6 linked regions of the Homo sapiens genome follow. The protein of the gene in region 1 purifies or fractionates together with the protein of each later gene. This does not show direct contact. Each region holds a gene or a part of one and is shown on either strand. Other genes may lie near its edges.

Region 1 (3,796 bases):
GAATCCTAGAGATGAAATACACAAGTCAGAGGTACAGAATATGCAATTTAGGAGAAGCATTTGTGAAAAAACAGGTATACTTAGAAATTTTAGTTAACACAGTACTTAATCCCAGCTCTGGAACTCACCTATATAAAAATGTGTGTGTGGCGGGGCTGGGGGCTAGGTTATTCTCTTTAACTTAGAGAATGCACACAGCGTCCCTCGCATATGCATGGCACTTGGAAGCTACTCAATAAATATTAACTTCCTTTCCTTCCCTCACAATATGAGTCAACAATTGATGCATCTTCCAAGGGGTCATGGGGAGGACTGTCATCGTTGGTGGCACGAGTGCACATATGGTTTAGAATGTCGGAGGTGATTCGCCCTGCTCTATATTCCCTGCCTGCTGTCTGCCTCTAGCTCTGGCAACCTCATTCTAAGTGGAAAGCAAGATGAGAGGGGACTTAAAGACACATTCATAATAGGAACTGAGAGTTATCAGTCATTGGTGAATGGTGTTATATGCAGAGCCCTTAAGGGAATTGGAGAAGTTTCTCTAGAGAAAAGGGCAGATAATATAAGGGCTATTTTCAAATATCTAAAAGGCTGCCTTTCTAGAAAAGTGATTAGCCTTCATTAAAAGCTAGAAAACCAGATTTTACCCAGTATTAAGGAAGAACTTTCTAATATTCAGAACTGTTCCAAAGATAAAAGTGGACTCCCCAGGACCCCAGAGGTGGTTTACAAGTCATGTGGGCAATTATTCATTCCTTCATTCACTGAACAAATATCTACTGAGAATCTACCATGTGGCAGGCACTGGTCGGGGTGCTGAGGCTGTACTGATAAACACACAAACATTCCTGACCTCACTGAGCTTGCTGCATTCCAGAGGAAGAGACAAATAAACAATAAACATAAGAAGTAATTAACAGTATGTTAGAATGTGATTAGTGCTATTGGGGGACGAGGAGGCCTTGCTTATCTAGGTTGGTGGGGCAGTTGGGGACTGGAAGGAAATAGATACAGTGCTGTATAAGACCGATTTCCATCCTAAAATGCCATAATGCAAACACATTTGGGAGTGTATACCCAGTGGGACAGCTAAAATACTACAGCAACTGAAGAGCTCCTGGAGCTGAACAAAAGATGGAAGAAAAAGTTTTATACTATGCCTGACACTTTAAAAACCTATTCTGGCCAGGTGCGGTGGCTCAGGCCTGTAATCCAAGCACTTTGGGAGGCCAAGGAGGGTGGATCACCTGAGGTCAGGAGTTCAAGACCAGCCGGACCAACATGGAGAAACCCCATCTCTACTAAAAATACAAAATTAGCTGGGCATGGTGGCACATGCCTGTAATCCGAGCTACTCAGGAGGCTGAGGCAGGAGGATTGCTTGAACCTGGGAGGTGGAGGTTGTGGTGAGCTGAGATCACACCATTGCACTCCAGCCTGGGCAACAAGAGCAAAACTCTGTCTCAAAATAATAATAATAATAATAATAAATAAAAACCCATTCTCTCCATGTTCCTTAGCATTTAAGAACACTGTAAAATGAAAGTACTGTTAAAAATTCTTAAGATTTAGGATCAGTACTCTGGAGTACCCGATTCTTTTAAATTCTTTCTTTGAATTCTTCTGCATTGAAAGAATTTTAGGCCGGGCTTGGTGGCTCACGCCTGTAATCCCAGCACTTTGGGAGGCCGAGATGGGTGGATCATCTGAGGTCAGGAGTTCGAGACCAGCCTGGCCAACATGGTCTCCACTAAAAATACAAAAATTAGCTGGGTGTGGTGGTGGGTGCCTATAATCCCAGCCACTCAGGAAGCTGAGGCAAGAGAACTGCTTGAACCTGGGAGGTGGAGGTTGCAGTGAGCCAAGATCGTGCCATTGCACTCCAGCCTGGGCAAATAGAGTGAAACTCCGTCTCAAGAAATAAAAAAGAAAAGCCCAGGTGCAGTGGCTCATGCCTGTAATCCCAGAACTTTGGGAGGCCAAGGCGGGTGTATCACTTGCAGTCAGGAACTCAAGACCAGCCTGGACAACATGGTGAAACCCCATCTCTACTAAAAATACAAAAAAATATCCAGGCGTGGTGGTGGGCGTCTGTAATCCCAGCTACTTGGGAGGCTGAGGCAGGAGAATCGCTTGAACCCAGGAGTCAGAGATTGCAGTGAGCTAAGGTCGTGCCACTGCACTCCAGCCTAGGCAACAAAAGCGAACCTCCGTCTCAAAAAAAGAAAAAGAAAAAAGACTGAAGACTGTAGCATGTAAACTTGGTTACTTTTATCCTGAAAGTTTTTCTTTTTATAAACCATATTAGAATTTTAAGTGATCTCATGTCAAGCTCCAACCAGAGGACTCAGGGTCTTTAACAAAGAAAAATCTTTTATATCTTTTCCAACATTATTAGAAATGCCTCGAAAAAAATCTTAATTGCACGAGTCAAACTATTTCATTGCAAGTGTCATGACTGGCTACTCACAGTTGGCATGTTTTTGACGATGCTCGGGAATAGCGTTTGTGGCGGTTTCTCCTGACTCTGTTGCTTTGGAGGTTGCTGGACGCTCAGGTTCTGTGGCGGCTGAATGGGCTGCAGTGGCTGCTGGCTAGTTTTTGGCTGGGGTTGTCCAACAACCTGATCGATTATATCCGGCAGAGGCTTAGGCTCTACCTCAACTAAAGATGGCTTTGATTCTAATGGTTGCAGCTGCTTATTTAAAGACTGTTTTGATTCCAGATGATTTGACGAAGGGCCTAATACCTGACCAACTTGAAAATATGGGTGTTTCAATGCCTATAAAAACACAGAGAAAACAACAAATGGAAAACAGTTCCACCTAAATGTATTGCACATAAACTATGGTTGGCCCTGTGCGAGGCATTTATCATTAGCCCACATGAGCTTCAAAGATTTAGAAAGCAGCCATCATTCCCTATACAGTGCCTCTTTTAAAAGATAACCAGAAAAAAATGATTTGAGAAATAAATTGCATTAAAAAATTAAAAGTGGCTGGGCATGGTGGCTCACGCCTATAATCCTAGCACTTTGGGAGGATGAGGTGGGAGGATCACTTGCGGTCAGGAGTTCAAGACCAGCCCGACCAACATGGTGAAACCCAGTCTCTACTAAAAATACAAAAATTAGCCAGGCGTGTTGGTGGATGCCTGTAACCCCAGTTATACGGGAGGGTGAGGCATGAGAATCGCTTGAACCTGGGAGGAGGAGATTGTAGTGAGCCAAGATTGTGCCACTGCACTTCAACCTAGGCAACACAGCGAGACTCCACCTCAAAAAAAAAAAAAAAAAAGTACTAGTAGGAAAAAATAGAAAGCTCACTTGTTATTATAACATCTAAGCAAAACAGCTGTTCTATTTATTTAAAGATTTGTTAGTGAAAATAAAATGTAATTTATAGACATTGGCTAAATTAATGTGATTACTTCAAGCTAAAATACTACACACCAATAATGGTTTAGAGTACACTCAAAGACATTAAAAAGTGAATTAAGAAAATCTTCCATATAGATTATTTGAAATGATTAACCAGAGCTGTATGTAAAATTCCGGGTTACTCTCAGCCTGAGTACAACAATATACCTACTAGTAATAAAAAAAAAATCTAAAGAGGGGACAACAAACACATACTGTTGAAGTTTATTTCATCGGTATACCAGCAAAGAGAAGACATTTATGGGAAGAAAATATAAAAATATTATGAAAAATGATCACTGTTTGAGTTTTATCTAGATCAGTCACCTGACTGCTTGCATGAGAGGGAAAGGACCCCCTGGTGTATGGGTGGCACCA
Region 2 (3,796 bases), on another chromosome or scaffold:
CTACTTGTGTCAATATATAAATTTTATGATTCAGAAGCCAAAATAATTTCTTAAGCTTTTGTTATAAAAAACAACCATTTAGAAAAATTTATAGATGTTGATGTAGCAACATATTCTTTGGTAAGTCTCATTATTTAATAGCTTTTTTGATGCATGCAAAATACTGTAAAAATCATTTAAAAAATCATTTACCTGCTCGAATTTTGACAGCCTGTGGGGTCAAGCGCCTATTAATATTATTAATGAGTACTTCCCGTTCATCTTCATTCAAATCTAAACTATCCAAAATAGATGGGTCTCTGGTCAAAAACATAAATAAATAACAAAAGGTCAAGGTTATATTACTGATAAATGTGAAACCAAACACTATGGAACAATGCATATAATAGTTAAGCATATAATAGTTAATGCATATAATAGTTAAGGCTTTAGTGTCACAATTAGAATTCAAATCTTAGCTTTGCACTTACACCCCAACTGATTATTAGTGAAATCAAAATTTTAGTGATCTGACTAAAACAAGCAATTTAATGCCTAACACATCTGATATTCTACTATAATTGATTACTTCCATGCAATTAGCTGTCCCTGCCTCAAGGAGTTTATAATCTATCTTGAATAGAAAAAAAAAACATGGAAAAACTTTTAAATGTAACAGTACATCTGTGGGCATCAGGACAGAAAGGTATTACTTCCAGTTAATGAGGTCAGGAAGGGCTTCATGCAAAAAGTAGCATTTCATCTGACCCTCCTAAGTGCCACAGGACAGGGACCAGGGTCTTATTAACTGGCATGTTTGTTGAATGAGTGAGCAAATGAAAATATGAAATAAAGACTAAAAGAGGAGTAGCACTGTAAAAAGTAAAGGTAGAACTATTGTAAAAAAGTTATGATACATAAGGCTGGGCACCAGTGACTCATGCCTGTAATCCCAGCACTTTGGGAGGCTGAGGCAGGGGGATCACTGGAGACCAGGAGTTCATAGACCAGTCTAGGCAACATAGCAAGACCTCCATCTCTATTAAAAAGAAAAAAAGACACTTTGGGAGGCCGAGGCGGGCGGATCACGAGGTCAGGAGATCGAGACCATCCCGGCTAAAACGGTGAAACCTCGTCTCTACTAAAAATACAAAAAATTAGCCGGGCGTAGTGGCGGGCGCCTGTAGTCCCAGCTATTTGGGAGGCTGAGGCAGGAGAATGGTGTGAACCCGGGAGGCGGAGCTTGCAGTGAGCCGAGATCCCGCCACTGCACTCCAGCCTGGGCGACAGAGCGAGACTCCGTCTCAAAAAAAAAAAAAAAAAAGAAAAAGAAAAAAAGAAAGTTATGTCATGTAAAAAAGGAATAGCATGAGCAAGCATCAGGCTTAATAAGCAAGGGGTCTTATTGGGAATAAAAGGCAAGAGAATTTGGGTGGAGGGAACTTTTACTCAGCTAACATAAAGTAACGAGAAGACAACCAACATAAATGTATAAGAAACAAGATGATAAACAGAAAATGGGCAAATGAGGTGAACAGATGTTTCACAGAAGAAATACAAATGGTTAAGAAACATGAAAAACTGTTGACCTCTCCAACAATCAGGAGTATGCAAATCAAAAGATACTACTGTGAATTCATTAGACTAGAAAAAGGAGAAAAAATCAGATATATACCAAATTGTGGCAAGGATTTGGTGAAACCAAGTCAGTTTAAAGATATATAATCAATCCTATGACCCAACAATTCCACTCCTAGGCATATATATTAGAAACTCTCAAACAACTACATATAGAGACACATACACTATTCATCACAGCCCTGTTTGACAAATGGCACAGAAGGGAAAATTACCTAAACAACTCTTAATAGAGGAACAGATAAAGCATATTCTCACAATGAAATACTATATAGAGATTAATATGGATCAAGTATACATCTATCATTGTGGGGGAATCCTGCTTAATAATAGGCTTATATGTAAAAATGCAAGCTACAAAAAGATACAATAGGTTACATTTTAAATAAAAAATGATAATAGACACATATGTAGTAAAACAATAAAAACAAATGATATTGATACATAATTTCAGAATAGTGGTTATCACTGATAAGTGAGGAAAATAGGTCTGGAAAGGTAAAACATTGTTTCCAACTATGTCAGAAATTTTATGTAATTAAAAGAAAAATGCAAAGAACTAGCATTAGTTAAATCTGGACAGTCCCTACATGAATGAAGCAAGAAAAGAGTGCTAAGGAAAAGGGAATAACACACGCCAAGGTTTAGTGGTAACAAGGGGTTGCTGGAACTAGAAGTTAAAGAGGTAACTAAAGAAGCCAGATGATGACAGTTGAGACAAGTTAAGAAATGTACTGAGGACTGCAGGACAGAAATATAAAGTTGTGTTTAATGGCTAATAGTGCAAACTCTGGATGGAGCCAGAATGCACGCGTTTGAATACTGCCTGGCTCTATGATTTGTTAGCTGTGTGACCTTGAACAAATTATTTAATCTCAGCTTCAGTTTCTTCAACTGTAAGAAAAGGATAATAATAGCATTTATACCACAGGTTGTTGTTAGAATTATATAAATGTTAGTTATCATTATTACTATTCCCACCTTTTCTACCACGTGATATACCAAAAAAAAAAAAAAAAAAAAAAAGTCACATGAGAATAAACTTGAAGGGATTTGGAACCCCAGATGAGTTGGCTTTCTGGGGGACTCTTAATGGTCTTGGGTCCTACTCATTCTCTTTTTTCCCCCCTCTAACTCTTAACATTTAGGAAGGAGTGGGAGGTAAAGAGACAGCAAGTATAGAGAACTGAAAGAGTCTGGCTTTTTTTTTTTTTTTAAGAGACAAGGTCTCACTCTGTCATCCAGACTAGAGTGCAGTGGTGCAATCACAAATCACAGCTCACAGAAACCTCAAACCACTGGACTCAAGTGATCCTCCTGCCTCAGCCTCCCAAGTTGCTGGGACTACTACAGGCAAATGCTACCACACCTGGCTACTTTTAATTTTTTTTTTTTTTAGAGATGGCAGTCTTGCTATGCTGCCCAGGATGGTCTCCAACTCCTGGCCTCAAGCAATCCTCCCACCTCAGCCTTACATAGTGCTGGGATTACAGGCATGAGCTACCACACATAGCCAAGTGTGGCTGTTAAAAGCAGAGGACGCAGTGTTTGCTCCAAGAGAAAGTAAAGGAAAAGTTGAGAAGTGGGTTTTATAGTATAAATGGAAGAAACTAGAGATATTTTTATGCTGATGGAGTAAAAGCAATAAAGGGAAAGGTGACCCAAGAGAAAAAGTAACTAATAGAGATCTCTGAGCAGCAGCTGGGCATAGGTGGCAAGACTAGTTTGAGAGCAATTAGGACACAAATTCCAGTGACAGCAGCATAGGAAGAAATGACAGGTGGGACAGAGATATGTAAGTTTGTTGAGACAGTGGAAAAGTAGTTCTTGTGCAATGGTTTCTATTTTCTTTATAAAATAAAATAGGTAGTGAGCATACCAGCCAAGAGGCAGGGAGCAGGGATAGAGTGGTTTTCTGAGGAAGAACGTGGAAAAGCTCTAAAATAGCCACTACTGAAGAACTGACCAGGAGCAGAGAGAATGTGGAACAGCTGAGGCTGGAGACCATGAATATGCAGTGGACCAACCTGCAAGACTGATTTTTCCTAGTAGCACCCAGCAGTCTACAAGTACAGAGAAGGCAGGAACATTGATCCAAGGCTGGATGGATGGAAGGAAAAACAAGGCAAAAGCTCACAATAATGGCAACAAAGTCGTTAAAATGATGTATCATGGTGTG
Region 3 (3,796 bases), on another chromosome or scaffold:
AACGGTGAAAGAAGAATTTATGCCTTGGGTTTCACAGTATCTGGTTATGAAGAGAGTCAGTATTGAGCCAAACTTTCATAGCCTGTATTCAAACTTCCTTGACACGCTGAAGAATCCTGAATTTAACAAGATGGTTCTGAATGAGACCTACAGAAACATTAAAGTAAGAGTTGGTTCTTATATTTCCTTTAATTATTGCTTTGAATTTGGAAATATTTGATTATATAGGTAGGATTTTTGCTATTTTTCCATATATATTGTCAATATTAGGTACCTCTGGAAATTGCTGTAGATTTTGTTTCTTATATGGAACTAAATTTTATGCAGAACTTAAATTTATAGGCATACCCTGTGCCTTTTCTTTGAAAGTAACCACTATTATGAATTGTTTTTGTCATGCCATGCATGATTTTAGAACTTTACCACTGTTATACATAAGCAGCATAGTATTGGTTAGCATATTCTGTATGGTGTCGCCCTCTGTACATCCTTTTCTTTTTTTTTCACTTACTTTTTTTTCTCCCCTGGATATTATTCATGATAATGATAATGCTCTTTGCTGTAGCCCCCTTTTTTTTTTTTTTTCAATTTTTTTGAGATGTGGTCTCACTCTGTTGCTTAGGCTGGAGTGCAGTGGCACGATCTCGGCTCACTGCAGCCTCCACCTCCCAGGTTCAAGCAGTTCTCTTACTTCAGCCTCCCGAGTAGCTGGGATTATAGTTGTACCGCCATGCCCAGCTAATTTTTATATTTTTAGTAGAGACGGGGTTTAATCATATTGGCCAGGCTGGTCCCGAACTCCTGACCTTAGGTGATCCACCCTCCTCGGCCTCCCAGAGTTCTGGGATTACAGGCCTGAGCCACTGTGCCCGGCCAGTCCTCTTTTTTAAAAAACAGAAAAATATAGTCTTGTAGAAAACCATTGTATGTATTTGTATTGCTGCTGGGCATTTGTGTTGTTAATCACTTAAACTATTATAAACAATGCTGTCCTGAATGTTTTCGTTTGTATCTTGTAGTATTCAAGTGCAAGATATCTTTAGACTCTAAATCTGTTTGTGGAATAGCTGTTGTCTAGGAGTCTGTGCAGTTTAAGGTCAAATTCTACTGAGCTGAGGCTTATTCAACAAAATTCAAGTATTTTAATTTCTAAACCATCATTTATTTCTTAGGAGGAAAAACTTCTAGAACCAGCATACAGCTGTGGTCATTCTTTGCTCAATAACTTGGGTCATTGGCTTAGGAACCAGCACTATATTTAAACCTGTGGATGGGAATATTCCCCATTCTTGGTTACGCTGTAGTGCAAAAGAATTCCTGGCTCTCTGTTGCACAGCTGACTTGTGCCATTCTGCTGTTGCTGTATAGAGTTAAGGAACATGGCTCTATTTCGTTTTTATTATCTGATAGCAAGGGTGGTTGGGATACATAAAAGTTTCCACATACTCTGTAGCAAAGTTTCAAGACCATGTTTTTTAAACAGAAGTTTAAATATAGCCCTAAGTCAAGAGGTACCACAGAGTAGATGGGTATATACATGTGTGCATACCTGCAGCCAAAACACTCTCCTATGTTAGTTCTGCCCCCCCTTAGAAAAACAGTAACCGGAGAATCAGTTAAATGGTTTGGGTTTTTTAGAAATTTGAAAAGAAGTATATAAACAGTATTATACTATATCTCAGAAAGTTATCTTGGTTGGCTGCAGAGATTTGTTAATGACCTGGGTATACTGAAGATTGCAATAGGAGGCTAATTTGATTATATTCCTTTGTATGCTTGCTGCCTTTAAGGACTTAAGCATGGCTATCATCCTCATTTAAATTAATTTAGCACTTCAAAATAGCTTTGTAGTTAGGTCTCTGCTTTAAACCTAGCTAAGGTTTTCAGAGTTGAAAATACTTTTCTAGGGGAGGATAGCTGGCACATAACTTTGTGTTCTTTTTGAATTTTGTGCAATGTGTTTGTACCTATTTTGAAAAAATAAAATGTAAAGACTTCTTCAAGGTAAAAATAGCACTGTTGAATCATAAACACAGCAAAATGATATTGAGAATGATATACAGAGTAATTCTACTTTGGGGCCTGTTCTTAGAAATGATGACTTGTCTTTAGGATAGGATAATGGAATTCTCAAATACTTAGTTGAGTTTTCTTTCATAAGCTTATTCTCATATCTTTCTTAATCTTACACTATTTCAGGTGCTCCTGACCTCTGATAAAGCTGCAGCCAATTTCTCAGATCGTTCTTTGCTGAAGAACTTGGGACATTGGCTAGGAATGATCACATTAGCTAAAAACAAACCCATCTTACACACTGTGAGTTTCATCTAAATGTGTAAAAATTGAGAATCTTCAGCACATTATGATTACAAGTATTGGCTGTTTGGAGCTATTTAATGATTATTGGGGTTTTGTAAGATTTTGGCCCACGTTTTGAGTTGTTAACCCCTTTTTGTAAGGCAAGGACTAGACATTATGTTGATTCCTGTTTTGGGGATAAGCTTGGCAAAATACTTTTCTTTGGTTTTGTTATACCATTTTGGGGGGTATATTCCCCGCTTTTGAAAGTATTTTTCTTATTCTAGGACTTGGATGTGAAATCATTGCTGCTAGAGGCTTATGTTAAAGGACAACAAGAATTGCTCTATGTAGTGCCCTTTGTTGCCAAAGTCTTAGAATCTAGCATTCGTAGTGTGGTGAGTAGATTTTAATATTTTATTTATGACTAATTTCTAAGCATTGCTTTGTTTTAGCATGAGGTCAAGAGATTATATTCTTAGTTCTTGTGAGGTAAAGCTAGTTAAGTCTGTTTTCCTCTATGGCACTTGGATTTCCAATTTGAGAGGCTGGGTGAAATAAGAAAGATTATAATGGTTGGCTTTGGTTTTTGGTTTTTTGTTTTGTTTTGTTTTTGAAATGTGATATAGGTGAGAAGGCTAGGGGTTTTGTTATGGCTACAGAGGTATAAGTGTTTAACTATGTTTAACTGTTTTTGGTTATTTTTTAATCCTTGTTTTTTGTTTTTTATTTGTTTGACTCCCCCCTACCCCCTTATGTTGTATTGAATTGTTTTAAATAATCCAAATTAAAGGGCACATTTTGGGCCAGCTTAACATAATAGCTTTTCTTTAGGTTTTTAGGCCACCAAACCCTTGGACAATGGCAATTATGAATGTATTAGCTGAGCTACATCAGGAGCATGACTTAAAGGTAATTTACTGCTTCCTTGTCCTCTGGAACATTCTTTGCCTTCACATTATTAAAACTTACAGTGAAGGCAGGGTATTTCGGGGGAAGTACTATAATAACTGAAAGTAGAGTATATTATGAGTAAAACTAAAGTTTTCTTTTAAAAATTCTAATCCAACTCTGGAACTGTGCAGTTAAACTTGAAGTTTGAAATCGAGGTTCTCTGCAAGAACCTTGCATTAGACATCAATGAGCTAAAACCTGGAAACCTCCTAAAGGATAAAGATCGCCTGAAGAATTTAGATGAGCAACTCTCTGCTCCAAAGAAAGATGTCAAGCAGCCAGAAGAACTCCCTCCCATCACAACCACAAGTAAGTGTGCTAATTAGTCAAGGAAGGCTTCTGTTAGCTAGGATACTATCTTAAATGGTACTTGTCCATGTATATCGCAAACTATAATTTCCCACATAATGTAGTGGTGAAACTTTGTATACGTTTTGGTGAGCCTTCTAATTATCAAGCAGAAGTAATGACTAGGCCTTGTGTTACCATCTTAGATTCCATCCTGACAGTTCATGCATATTATTAACTAAATGTGATTTAATCA
Region 4 (3,796 bases), on another chromosome or scaffold:
AAGGTTTACCAGTGTATTCCATTAACAAAAGAATGGCTGAACATCAAAAAAACTAAAGTAATCTGCATTTAATGGCAGAAAACCATGAGATCGTCTTCATCTTAATAGATGCAGAACGATTGTTTATGTGTTCAACATCTATTTGTGTGTGGTTTTTTTTTCAGCCTCAGAAAAATAGTAATAGATAGAATCGGTAAAGTTTTTTTGTTTGTTTTGAGACGGAGTCTCACTCTGTTGCCCAGCCTGGAATGCAGTGGTGCGATCTCAGCTCACTGCATCCTCCATCTCCTGGAGTCAAGAGATTCTCTTGCCTCAGCCTCCCAAGTAGCTGGGACCACAAGCGCACGCCACCAGGCCCAGCTAATTTTTGTATTTTTAATAGAGATGGGGTTTCACCATGTTGGCCAGGCTGGTCTCGAACTCCTGACCTCATGTGATCCACCCGCCTCAGTCTCCCAAAGTGCTGGGATTACAGGGGTGAGACACCACGCCTGGCCATAAGTTATTGGCTTGATAAATGCCATTAATCTACAGCAAAAACCTTACTAAAAGAAGAAAATGTAGACATTCACCGCAAAATCAGGAACAAGGCAAGGATGCCCACTGTTACAATGCCAGCACAATTCTAGATATCCAGATCACACAATTTACAAAAGAAATGTGAGATATAAACACTGGAAGGAAAAAGACACACTCTTATTTAAAAAGATGATATCGTCATCTACAAAAAACCAATGAAACCAACAGAAACTAATAAAACTACTCAGAGGAGTAACAAGTTATAAGAGCAACCTACAAAAATCAGATGTTATCCTCATTAACAATAACCAAATAGAAACCAATATGGACTATAAGATGTTACAATAGCAACTAAAACCATTAAGTAGCTAATAATTAGCCTCCCACAAAGACACATCAGACCCACAAAGGAAAAATTTTAGTTCTATCAAAGAAACTAAAAAGAGGTGTGATCAAATGGGGGAGATTTAGCATCACCATGGACTGGACAACTTAATGTTATAAATATGCTGATTTTTCATGGAACAATTTAAATTCAGTACAATTCGAATCAAAATTAAAGTATGATTTTTTCCAGAAATTCAACAAAATAATTCTGAAGTTTTAGCTGAGTATATTTGAAAAGGAATAATAAAGTGAGAGGGGAGAGGGAGCTCTCTCTCATTCTCTCTCTCTTCCTCTCACTGGCTCTCTCTCTTTCTCTCCACCAGATAGTAAGACCCATTGGTAAGCCACAGTAACAAAAGCAGAAAAAATGCAAATACACCAATGAAATAAAATAGCTCAGAAACTGGTCCACTTGGATATATACAAACTTGGTGTAGAATTGGCTTCACATATGGCAGAAAAAATATACTTTTTTTATTGTAAGGTAAATTGCCTCACTGTAAAGGGGATAAAATGCTAAAGCCAAATCTATATCTGACTTTCTAGGTAGAGCACATATAAATAGATGAGGAAGGGGATCTTCAAATCTTATTTTAGGAAATAATTATGATTTGGGTGTGAAGAAGGGCATCTTTGAAATATCTCAAAACTACAAACCAACAAGGTGAGGCTTGTGGATTTGACCTTATCAATATCAAGGATTTTTGATCAACAGAGACTACCGTTGTCAGATTTTTGACTGAGAAGAGGTTTTACTAAAGTTTAAAATCAGCAATAGTTTGATACCTAGATAGAAGGAACTTCTGTCCTTGAATCAAAATCATGCAGAAACAAGGTGTGAAACTCAATTTAAAAAGTAGTCAAATGTCACAAAATAAGAAAGGGAAGCCCAAACGGCTAGCAAATATGTTGAAATGATCAAACTCACCAGCTGTCAGAGAAATGAAAATTAAAAATAAAACGAACTATCTATTGCATTACAACCATCATTCGGACAAAAAGTATGAAAGTCAAAAATACTTCTAACTGAAGTTGTGGGGAAATTAGAACACTTGCAGAGTGTCATTCCAGACAGCAGCTTGGTGATCCTGGGTGCATGTGGGGTCTGTCTCTGGTGGCCCTGGGTGCATGTGGAGGTCTGTTTCTGGTGGCCTCTGATGAATGCGGGGTCTGTCTCTGATGGTCCTAGGTGAATGTGGGTGTTGTCTCTTTCTCTGGTGGTCCTGGGTGGATGTGGGGTGTGTCTCTGATGGTCCTGAGTGAATGTGGGTGTCTGTCACTTTCTCTAGTGGCCCTGGGTGGAATATAGTAGCCCTGTCTCTATTGGTCTTGCATGAAATGTAGTGAGCTTATGTCCACTAGTCCTGGGTGCAGTGTGTTTAGCCTCTACATACTCATCAACTGCTTTATTATAAGTCCAGGAGGGACGCTGTCCAGCACGTAAGTAAGGAACACAGGTGAAGGTATCAGTCGTGTGGCTGCATGTGGTAGAGGAAAAGAGAGCACAACCTCTGTCCATCACTATGGTGACAGAGAAGTAAAAGGTGGATGTATTCCACGGAACACTCCTCAACTGTTAGGACCCCTGAGCTAGACATGTATACAACAATACCGATAAACCTCTAAAACAAAATGCTGAGCAGAAAACCCAAGTAGCAGGATTTCTAATGCTCACTAAAACCTCTATGAACCCAGAAACCGGAAACACAAACCAGCACAATCTGTTCTGCATGAGCACATGTGTCTTGGAGGACTGGAGGACGCATTGCCAAGCACCTAGGCATGGGTGTCTATGAGGGGAAGAGAAAGGCAGTAGGCACAGGAGGTTTGAAGAAAACTGATCATTTAAAATATGAAAGATCATAAAATCAGAGCTGTGCCCTGTAGGAATCTTGAAAATGGTCTGCCATGAACTTAGGAATCTAATTAGCTCAAAGGTCAGAGTCATGATCAAGTAAGATAAAAGGGGTCAGTACCCACGGCTCATTACCCTGCTCTTACCAAACACTGTGCTCTCTCTGATAAAAGCCACGTCTCCAGCCCCGTCTCTCAGACACCTGTGAAAAGAGAAACCATCAGGGGTAAGCACAGGCAGCCCTCCCCAGCCCCTCCCTGTGGAACAGTAGCCCTGGCACTCAGCATCTATGGGTTTCTACTCCCTGCAGGGCAGGGCTCTGAAGCTTTGGGGCATCCCAGCTGGGAAGGTAGGGGCCCCCTCCAGGTAGATACTGAAGAATGACTCAGGTGCTAGCCAGAGGCCCCCATCTTCTGCTTTGAGGGCTAAGAGGACAAAACTTTTTTCTATATAAAGGAGAGTTTTGAAGCCTCTACCCAAGAGGGTAAAGCCTTAGCATCACTGTTCATGTGGCTGTTTTCCTCAGGACTGAGTGTGCAGGTGTGCCCTGGCCAGTGGGGAAGTGTGGAGGCCTCCCTCTGCAAAAATACGCTAGTGCCAGCAGACAGAATGGGAAAAGGGGGAGCTCAGCCTCCGCGTGGGGGCAGAGAGGATGGGGGCGAATCAGGCATTGCTCACTGTCCTTCAGCCACGGGGAGAGGCCCAGGTGGGCAGAAGGACATCAGCCTGGACACTGCAGCGGTCCTGCCCAACCAGGAGCCAGGACTGGACATCTCATGACAAGATGCCTTCAGTCCTGCTGTGGTTAGGCAGGCGGCAGAAATTAGTATGAGGAACCCAGGACAACAGGGCAGCCAAGTTGGATTCAGGGCTCTCTGAGGTAACAGGAGGGCCCACAGCCACAGTGACTGCCCGTGGGGCTGGTGAGAAGTTGGGGGCACAGTTGGGCCCGGAAGGCTGGAGGGGAACACACACTGGGCAGGCCTGCACTCTCTTTGGACACACAGCAGTAGGAGAACAGACCTCCTCTCGTCC
Region 5 (3,796 bases), on another chromosome or scaffold:
ACACTGTCACATGTATATCAAATATAAAAATTTTTAAGACCTGAATTTTCTTTATTACATATAATACTGGGAGAGTTAGCCTTGATTTAAAGAAAGCCAACACTTACTTGCTGTGTTGAAATATTTCCAATGCCACTTTTGCTTCAACTTCCAGAGTTTCAAATGGAAGATCTTTATAAATTAAAGCATGAGCATCTTTTGTGAAGGAACGTAAGTTCTCCTTAAAAATGAAAGTAATAACCTTTAGTAACAATTCACTGAAAAGCATTTCTCCATAAGCCAGTTGAAACAAAACTCTATGCTTAGTACTGCAAATCCAACTAAAATAAAAGATAAAATCAAATTTGTTAGAACAGAAAGTTACTAATTTGCAACAACTGAAGTTTTGGACCATAAACTATAAAACTTCTTATTTACCTGTAATTAAGGTGTCAGCCTTCATTAATACTAATTATTAAAGAGAAAACTATACAGAAATTTTATCCAAATTATATAATTTCATCCAAATTATACAACCTTAAAATGTTTATTAAAACTATGATGCAGCAAGTAAAAATGCCAATAAATAAATAGCAAGACATAAAAATGTGTTTACAGTATGAATAAATCTAAGTTTATTAAATATATGGGGAAAAATTATTGTTTTCTTAATTAAGAAAGTTTCACTAGAAATGTAGCATCATCACCCACCCTGTGCAAAGTATAGCATGTCCAATATTAAAAGTTTCTGCTTAATAAAAATGTCAATTTTACACAATTAAAATGATGAAGAATACACATTAACAATGTGTTTAAGATTTTTAATAAAAATTCTAATTGAGCTTTCATACTGTAAATCATTACTAATAACACAGAAAAAACCAAGCACTATTACACAAGTAATTTTTATAATGAAATTATTTCCATAAAAATCCTATTAGACTTTTTTGCATGAAATGACTTCTCTATAAAGAATAATTTACTGTATAAAAAAATCAACATTCATGGTTTAATACAACTATTCCTTCAATGTAACTCTACCCTACTTTCTTTAAGCTGTCTACTCAACCCAACTCCATGGAGTCTGCAATCAGCTCACATATTTCTTTTGTAAGGTTTTATCTTTTAAAAAAGAAAAATGCAAAAGCCAAGCACAGTGGCATACACCTGCAGTCCCAGCTACTAGAAAGGCTGAGGCAGGAAGATTGCTTGGGCCCAGAAGTTCAAGGCCAGCCTAGGCAACATAGTGAGACCCCCATCTCTTTAAAAAAAAAAAAAAAGAGAGAGAAAGAAAGAAAAAAGCAGTTATGTTTCACAGATAATGAAAATTAAATCTTGACCTCAGTTTTTACCTAACTTGCCCCAGTAAAAAAAATCTTAAATTTGGAGACATACTTGAAAAGGAAGAAGCTACACTGACAGGAGCCCAGAGGTCATGAAGAAACAGTTCCAATCCCTTCCCTCCCCTCTTTCCATCCTCTTCTCTCTCTCTTCCCTCTCCCTTTTTCTCATTCTTTCTTGATTCCCTCTTCTCTCCCTCTCAATATTATGTAATATGCGCAGGATTATACAAAAAGTAATTTCCAAGGCCAAATTTAAAGCTGGATCTGCCCTTACTCCAAAATCCTTGCTTTTAAGAACCACTACAGTATTTTACTAAATCTAAGATGTATTACTAAGGGGAAAAAAAAAAAAAAAAAACACTACAAATTCTAATTGCAAGATACCATCTAATATAAGGCTTATATATTTTCAGAGATATTAAATATAAAAAGAATGTACACAGTGGAAATGATAAAATGATGTGCTACACTGCTTCCCCTTTTCAGATCTCCAGACTCCCAATACATAGGACATATAGTTTTGTTTAATTAAGAATTAGGTATTTGCCTATTCTCCCCAATCAGAACTACATCTCCAGGCTTGATCTTTGATAACCATCAGCACCCCTTACCTACTGAGCACCTGATCTAGACTGTCCTTGTTAGGCTCTGTTGCTACCCAAGTCCCAGACCAACAAGGACCATCCTCATTACAAAGGCAAACCATTCACAAAGAGTTTAGTTTGTTAATATTTCATTTGTTGATGCTTGAGTATTAGCTTTGTCAAAGTCTGATTCTTTAATTCACCCAGCTCTCAATGTGACCCTTGTATATACAGGGACCTCACTGTATGCAACAAGTTAAAATGGTTTAGGGGAGTGGTTTTCAAATTGTGCTCCAGCGACCCAAACAAGTATGGCTCCAGGCCCCCTACTACCACATGGGTCAAGATAGTTAAGTTTTTATATTTTATATCCTGGGCCTCTTGAAAACCACTACCTTAAAACCACTTAGAAGGAACATCAAGAAAAGGTCAAGCAGAACATAAAGTTTCAAGACAACTGACCATGTTGATGTAAATACTCTCATTCACATCCCTCTGTCTTAAATAGGCTGAAAAAGCAACAACACCAATAGATAGATAGATAGACAGACAGACAGATACATAGATACATAGATAGATACATAGATTCTTTTAAATGTTCTCAACATGCAGTACCATTCAACAATACTAACATAGGAATCATTCTAACAAAGAAAGGCAGACACTCTAAAATTAATACTCCAGAAGAATACACTTACTTTTGTTGGCATCCACTCATCAAGTTTGCTATCCAAAACTACGTCATAACAGAAGGCACCAGAAATTACTGTAAATCCAACCAAAATAAAAAGCAAAGTCAAATCTGCCCCAACAGAAAGTTACTAATTTGCAACAACTGAATATTTAGACCATAAAAAGGATTAGCACTCTCTCCCAACTCTACAAATTATAAAATGGTTGCCATTCTTCCAGCTGCTTGCCAGAGCTCTATCAAATTTCCCTTAGCCAAAAGATTGTCAACCCCAAATCACAAATATTTTTTAAACATTCAAGTTTTCTTCACAAATGCTATTGCCATACAGATTTCATACAGTTACCAGATGTAAAAATTCTGGGAAGCCAAGGCAGGTGGATCACCTGAGGTCAAGAATTTGAGACCAGCCTGGCCAACATAGTAAAACCCCATCTCTACCAGAAATATAAAAATTAGCCGGGCTTGGTGGCAGGCAACTGTAATCCCAGCTACTTGGGAGTCTGAGGCAGAAGAATCGCTTGAATCTGGGAGGTGCAGGTTGCAGTGAGCCAAGATCGCGCCACTGCACTCCAGCCTTGGCAACACAGCGAGACTCCGTCTTAAAAAAAAAAAAAAAAAAAAAATTCCAAAAGAACAAGATATTTAGTAAGTAGATAAATAACTTAATGGATACAAAATGTTACATTTCTTTTATATCCCCTAAATATCTTCTTTTTGGGGTTTTGTTCTTAGAATCATTTCTTGAGCTTCTTTCAAATATTTTAGGTATATCTACTTCTTTAAAAAAAAAAAAAAATTTGACACGTGATCCTACCATACTTACTATTCCAAAATCCTAGTTTTAGCAAAATTACAGTCCACACCCTGTCATTTCACCAAAGTGCTGTCACTTTCCAAAGTAATGGTCCTGTCTGGTGAAATATTACCACCTAAGCACAGCTCTTTACAGTAGTCTACTTATACTCAGATTTCCTCCTCCTCTATACATCCAATTTGGAAATATATGCTTAAAGTAAAAAATAAACGCTAAGGGCCGGGCACGGTGGCTCACGCCTGTAATCCCAGCACTTTGGGAGGCCGAGGCAGGCAGATCACGAGGTCAGGAGATCGAGACCATCCTAGCTAACATGGTGAAACCCCGTCTCTACTAAAAATACAGAAAAATTAGCCAGGCGTGGTGGCGCGCGCCTGTAGAC
Region 6 (3,796 bases), on another chromosome or scaffold:
CTTGTCTGCGCGGAATGCCTGAGTGTCTGGAGCTGTCTGCTGACTGCTGGTGGCGGGATCCGTGTCTTTCTCCTGGACTTGATCTTGCCTGTTCATGGGATGACGCAGCCTGTCCACCAGAGGAAGTCTCTGCGTGAGGAGTTCCTGATTGTCTGGAGCTGTCTGCAGAGTGCCCGTGACCGGCTCTGTCTTCGTGATGGGACCTGGGGTGTCTGGAGCCATGTCTTGACTGCTCCTGAGCAGATCCACGATGGTTTCTGGAAGCAGACCCAGACCACCTCTCAGAGTCTTCTGAATGTCCCTCACTGTCACTGTCCTGGCTAACACTGGATCCCTGGCGCCTGCTTGTCCTGGACCCCTCTGATTGTCCCTGGCCTGCCTGTGAGTGTCTAGAGATGTCGGCATGAGAGGAAGCTTCATGGTGACGTGACCCTGAGTGCCTGGAGCCGTCTCTTGATTGTTCCTCATTACGTGTTGTTCTGCTTGCACTTCTGGATCCTGACTGCCCACGGGAGGCATCAGACCTTCCCTGGGATGTGGTGTGGCTGTGATGGGACCCTGAGTGTCCAGACCTATCTACCGATTGCTCGTGGTGGGACCCCTGCCTTCCTCTTCTGCTTGACCCCGGGTGTCCACGAATGGTGTCCTGACCATCTTGGGATGCTGAGTGCCTGGAGTTGTCTCGTGCCTGCTCATGGTGGGATCCTTGTCTTACTCCAGTGCTGGGCCCTGTCCATCCATGGGAGGACTCAGACTGTTTATGAGTGCTCACCTGGTAGAGGAAAGACCCTGAACGTCGAGACCTTTCCCCTGACCGGTCACGTGCGGACTCTTGGTGGCTCTGCTGATGGTGACCAGCCTGTCCATGGCCTGACACTGACTGTGTGTCTGAGTCTTCTGAATGTCCCTCACTGTCAGTGGCCTGACTACCACTGGACCCTCGGTGTCCACTGTCTCTGACTGCAGATGAAGCTTGTCCGTGCCCAGTGCCTGAGTGTCTGGAGCTGTCTGCTGACTGGAGCTGGTGGCGGGATCCATGTCTTTCTCCTGCACTTGATCTTGCCTGTTCATGGGATGACGCAGCCTGTCCACTAGAGGAATTCTGTGTGTGACGAGTGCCTGATTTTCTGGAGCTGTCTGCAGAGTGCCCATGACCAGCTCTGTCTTCGTGATGGGACCTGGGGTGTCTGGAGCCATCTCTTGACTGCTCCTGAGCAGATCCATGATGGTTTCTGGAAGCAGACCCAGACCACCTCTCAGAGTCTTCTGAGTGTCCCTGACTGTCACTGTCCTGGCTAACACTGGATCCCTGGTTCCTACTTGTCCTGGGCCCCGATGATTGTCCCTGGCCCACCTGTGAGTGTCTAGAGCTGTCAGCCTGAGAGGAAGCTTCATGATGACGTGACCCTGAGTGCCTGGTGCCGTCTCCTGATTGTTCCTCATTTCGTGTTTGTCTGCTTGCACTTCTGGATCCTGACTGCCCATGGGAGGCATCAGACCTTCCCTGGGATGTGGTGTGGCTGTGATGGGAACCTGAGTGTCCAGACCTATTTACCGATTGCTCGTGGTGGGATCCCTGCCTTCCTCCTCTGCTTGACCCCGGGTGTCCACGAATGGTGTCCTGACCCTCTTGGGACGCTGAATGCCTGGAGCTGTCTCGTGCCTGCTCGTGGTGCGATCCTTGTCTTCCTCCAGTGCTGGTCCCGGTCCGTCCATGGGCAGAGTCAGGCTGTTCATGAGTGCTCACCTGGTAGAGGGAAGACCCTGAACGTCCAGACCGTTCCCCTGACCGGCCACGTGTGGACTCTTGGTGGCTCTGCTGTCTCAGCCCAGCCTTTCCGTGGCCTGACACTGATTGTGTGTCTGAGTTTTCTGAATGTCCCTCACTGTCACTGGCCTGACTACCGCTAGACCCCCGGTGTCCACGATCGCTGACTGCAGATGAAGCTTGCCCGCGCCCAGTGGCTGAGTGTCTGGAGCTGTCTGCTGACTGCTGGTGGCCGGATCCATGTCTTTCTCCTGGACTTGATCTTGCCTGTTCATGGGATGATGCAGTCTGTCCACGAGAGGAAGTCTCTGCGTGACGAGTGCCTGATTGTCTGGAGCTGTCTGCAGAGTGCCCATGACTGGCTCTGTCTTCATCATGGGACCTGGGGTGTCTGGAGCCATCTCTTGACTGCTCCCACGCAGATCCATGATGGTTTCTGGAAGCCGACCCAGAGTGCCTCTCAGAGTCTTCTGAGTGTCCCTCACTGTCCCTGTCCTGGCTAACTCTGGATCCCCTACGCTTTCTTGTCCTGGACTCCTGCAATGGTACCTGGCTTGTATTTTCATGTCTTGACCTGTTCACTTGAGATGATGATTTGCCATCAGATGACCTTGATCTTTCATATATTTTGTTTTCTTCTAATAGACTATCAGTGGTGTCATAGGCTTCATCCTGGATTGTGTAATATGTGGCAATATGGCCTGATTGTATCCATTTTTGAGTCATTCTTCCTGTATTTTCATAATCATATACTCCTTCTTCATTGTCTTCTTTCTCTTCAAGTCTTTCACTTAGCCTCTTCCTATTGTCTCCTAATCTAGTATTTTCAGTCTTGTTTTTCTCTTTTTTACTTGAGTTATGATGGTTTTTTCCATATTCTTCTTCTCTATGAGTAGGTGAATATCCTTTTCTTTCTTTTTTTTCAGAACTAGATTCATGCCTTTTCCCCCCTGTTTCTCTTGGGCTCTTGGATCTTCCCTTATTCCCTTTTCTATTGTTTCTTCTTTCCAGACTTGAGGGTCTTTTTCTGTTTTCTTTGTTTTCTTCCTGTTTATTATCTTCATGTTTATCATGATGACTGTGCTTTCTGTGCTTGTGTCCTGATATCGGTAAATTCTCTTTTCTGGTAGACTCATAATATGCTTGAGCCAACTTGAATACCATCAGAAGAAACTCAGTGAAGTCAATTTTCTTGTTGTGGTCTATATCCAAGTGATCCATGAAGACATCAACCATATCTGGGTCATCTGGATTCTGTACAGAGGGAAGTCACAGAGGGAGACTGCATCAGACAGAATCACATTATCAGCCAATTAATTCAAAGTTAATTTAAGGAACCTGATCTTTGAGTATTAAAAAGTGGGACAAAATCTTTTTTTTTTTTAAGACTTTTTTGTCTCATCCTCATTCAGGTGTTATATGTGAACAAAGATGTAGACTAGTAAGGTATCAAGATTTGATGGGGTAAGTGACTCTTTTTCTTATTTTAAAAGTCAGAAGTGTATATAATTCATTACTTAGTTGTCTTTAACAAAAATCCCCTTAGTAATGTTGATGTTTGGGAGAATATTATAAATACCAAAATACTAAGAACTAATTTACATTAATTTTTAAATATTTATATTTTTTTCTCTGAGGGTGTCTTTATGTTTATAATATACATCCAGGTATAGGGGAAGAAAATAAAATCTATCTCTTTTGAGACAAGATTAACTCTTTTCCTATTTTAAGAGAAATAGTTCACAAAGAGCTCAAAATAACCCTTGCTTAGATTATTGATGAGAAAAACAAATGCTCTATCTTTGGTCTTGTCAGAGACTCTTACCTTCAGGATTTGCCGAAATTCCTTTTCCAGAAGTTCCTTCAGCTCTTTTTTACTCAATGTGTCAGTGTTTTTATCTTTTTTTGAATATTGCTTGAAAAGATTAATTATGGCAAAGATGTTTTCCAGGAGAGTAGACATCTTTTGGCAATAAATGTGAACCTAGAAAGAAGAAATGAAAATGCACTTTTTTATACATCTTTTTT

The links.
Region 2: the proteins of MAK (region 1) and EIF2S1 purify together in Homo sapiens (affinity purification with mass spectrometry; one large-scale study listed by BioGRID and IntAct). This does not show direct contact.
Region 3: the proteins of MAK (region 1) and CNOT1 purify together in Homo sapiens (affinity purification with mass spectrometry; one large-scale study listed by BioGRID and IntAct). This does not show direct contact.
Region 4: the proteins of MAK (region 1) and LTF purify together in Homo sapiens (affinity purification with mass spectrometry; one large-scale study listed by BioGRID and IntAct). This does not show direct contact.
Region 5: the proteins of MAK (region 1) and MRPL39 purify together in Homo sapiens (affinity purification with mass spectrometry; one large-scale study listed by BioGRID and IntAct). This does not show direct contact.
Region 6: the proteins of MAK (region 1) and FLG purify together in Homo sapiens (affinity purification with mass spectrometry, with the first as the bait; one large-scale study listed by BioGRID). This does not show direct contact.

What each region holds. Positions count from the first base shown.
Region 1 is NC_000006.12:10,793,528-10,797,323, forward strand, and holds part of MAK (serine/threonine-protein kinase MAK), read right to left. Parts: intron 2,783-3,796; coding exon 2,471-2,782; intron 1-2,470. UniProt on the Homo sapiens protein: Essential for the regulation of ciliary length and required for the long-term survival of photoreceptors. Phosphorylates FZR1 in a cell cycle-dependent manner. Plays a role in the transcriptional coactivation of AR.
Region 2 is NC_000014.9:67,377,162-67,380,957, reverse strand, and holds part of EIF2S1 (eukaryotic translation initiation factor 2 subunit 1), read right to left. Parts: intron 300-3,796; coding exon 193-299; intron 1-192. UniProt on the Homo sapiens protein: Member of the eIF2 complex that functions in the early steps of protein synthesis by forming a ternary complex with GTP and initiator tRNA. This complex binds to a 40S ribosomal subunit, followed by mRNA binding to form a 43S pre-initiation complex (43S PIC).
Region 3 is NC_000016.10:58,546,086-58,549,881, reverse strand, and holds part of CNOT1 (CCR4-NOT transcription complex subunit 1), read left to right. Parts: coding exon 1-163; intron 164-1,248; exon of another isoform or gene 1,249-1,383; intron 1,384-2,199; coding exon 2,200-2,316; intron 2,317-2,585; coding exon 2,586-2,696; intron 2,697-3,132; coding exon 3,133-3,210; intron 3,211-3,383; coding exon 3,384-3,561; intron 3,562-3,796.
Region 4 is NC_000003.12:46,451,398-46,455,193, forward strand, and holds part of LTF (lactotransferrin isoform 1 preproprotein), read right to left. Parts: intron 2,964-3,796; coding exon 2,908-2,963; intron 1-2,907. UniProt on the Homo sapiens protein: Transferrins are iron binding transport proteins which can bind two Fe(3+) ions in association with the binding of an anion, usually bicarbonate. Lactoferricin binds to the bacterial surface and is crucial for the bactericidal functions.
Region 5 is NC_000021.9:25,597,195-25,600,990, forward strand, and holds part of MRPL39 (large ribosomal subunit protein mL39), read right to left. Parts: intron 2,673-3,796; coding exon 2,605-2,672; intron 221-2,604; coding exon 108-220; intron 1-107.
Region 6 is NC_000001.11:152,311,726-152,315,521, forward strand, and holds part of FLG (filaggrin), read right to left. Parts: intron 3,753-3,796; 5' UTR 3,732-3,752; coding exon 3,594-3,731; intron 3,233-3,593; exon of another isoform or gene 3,023-3,232; coding exon 1-3,022.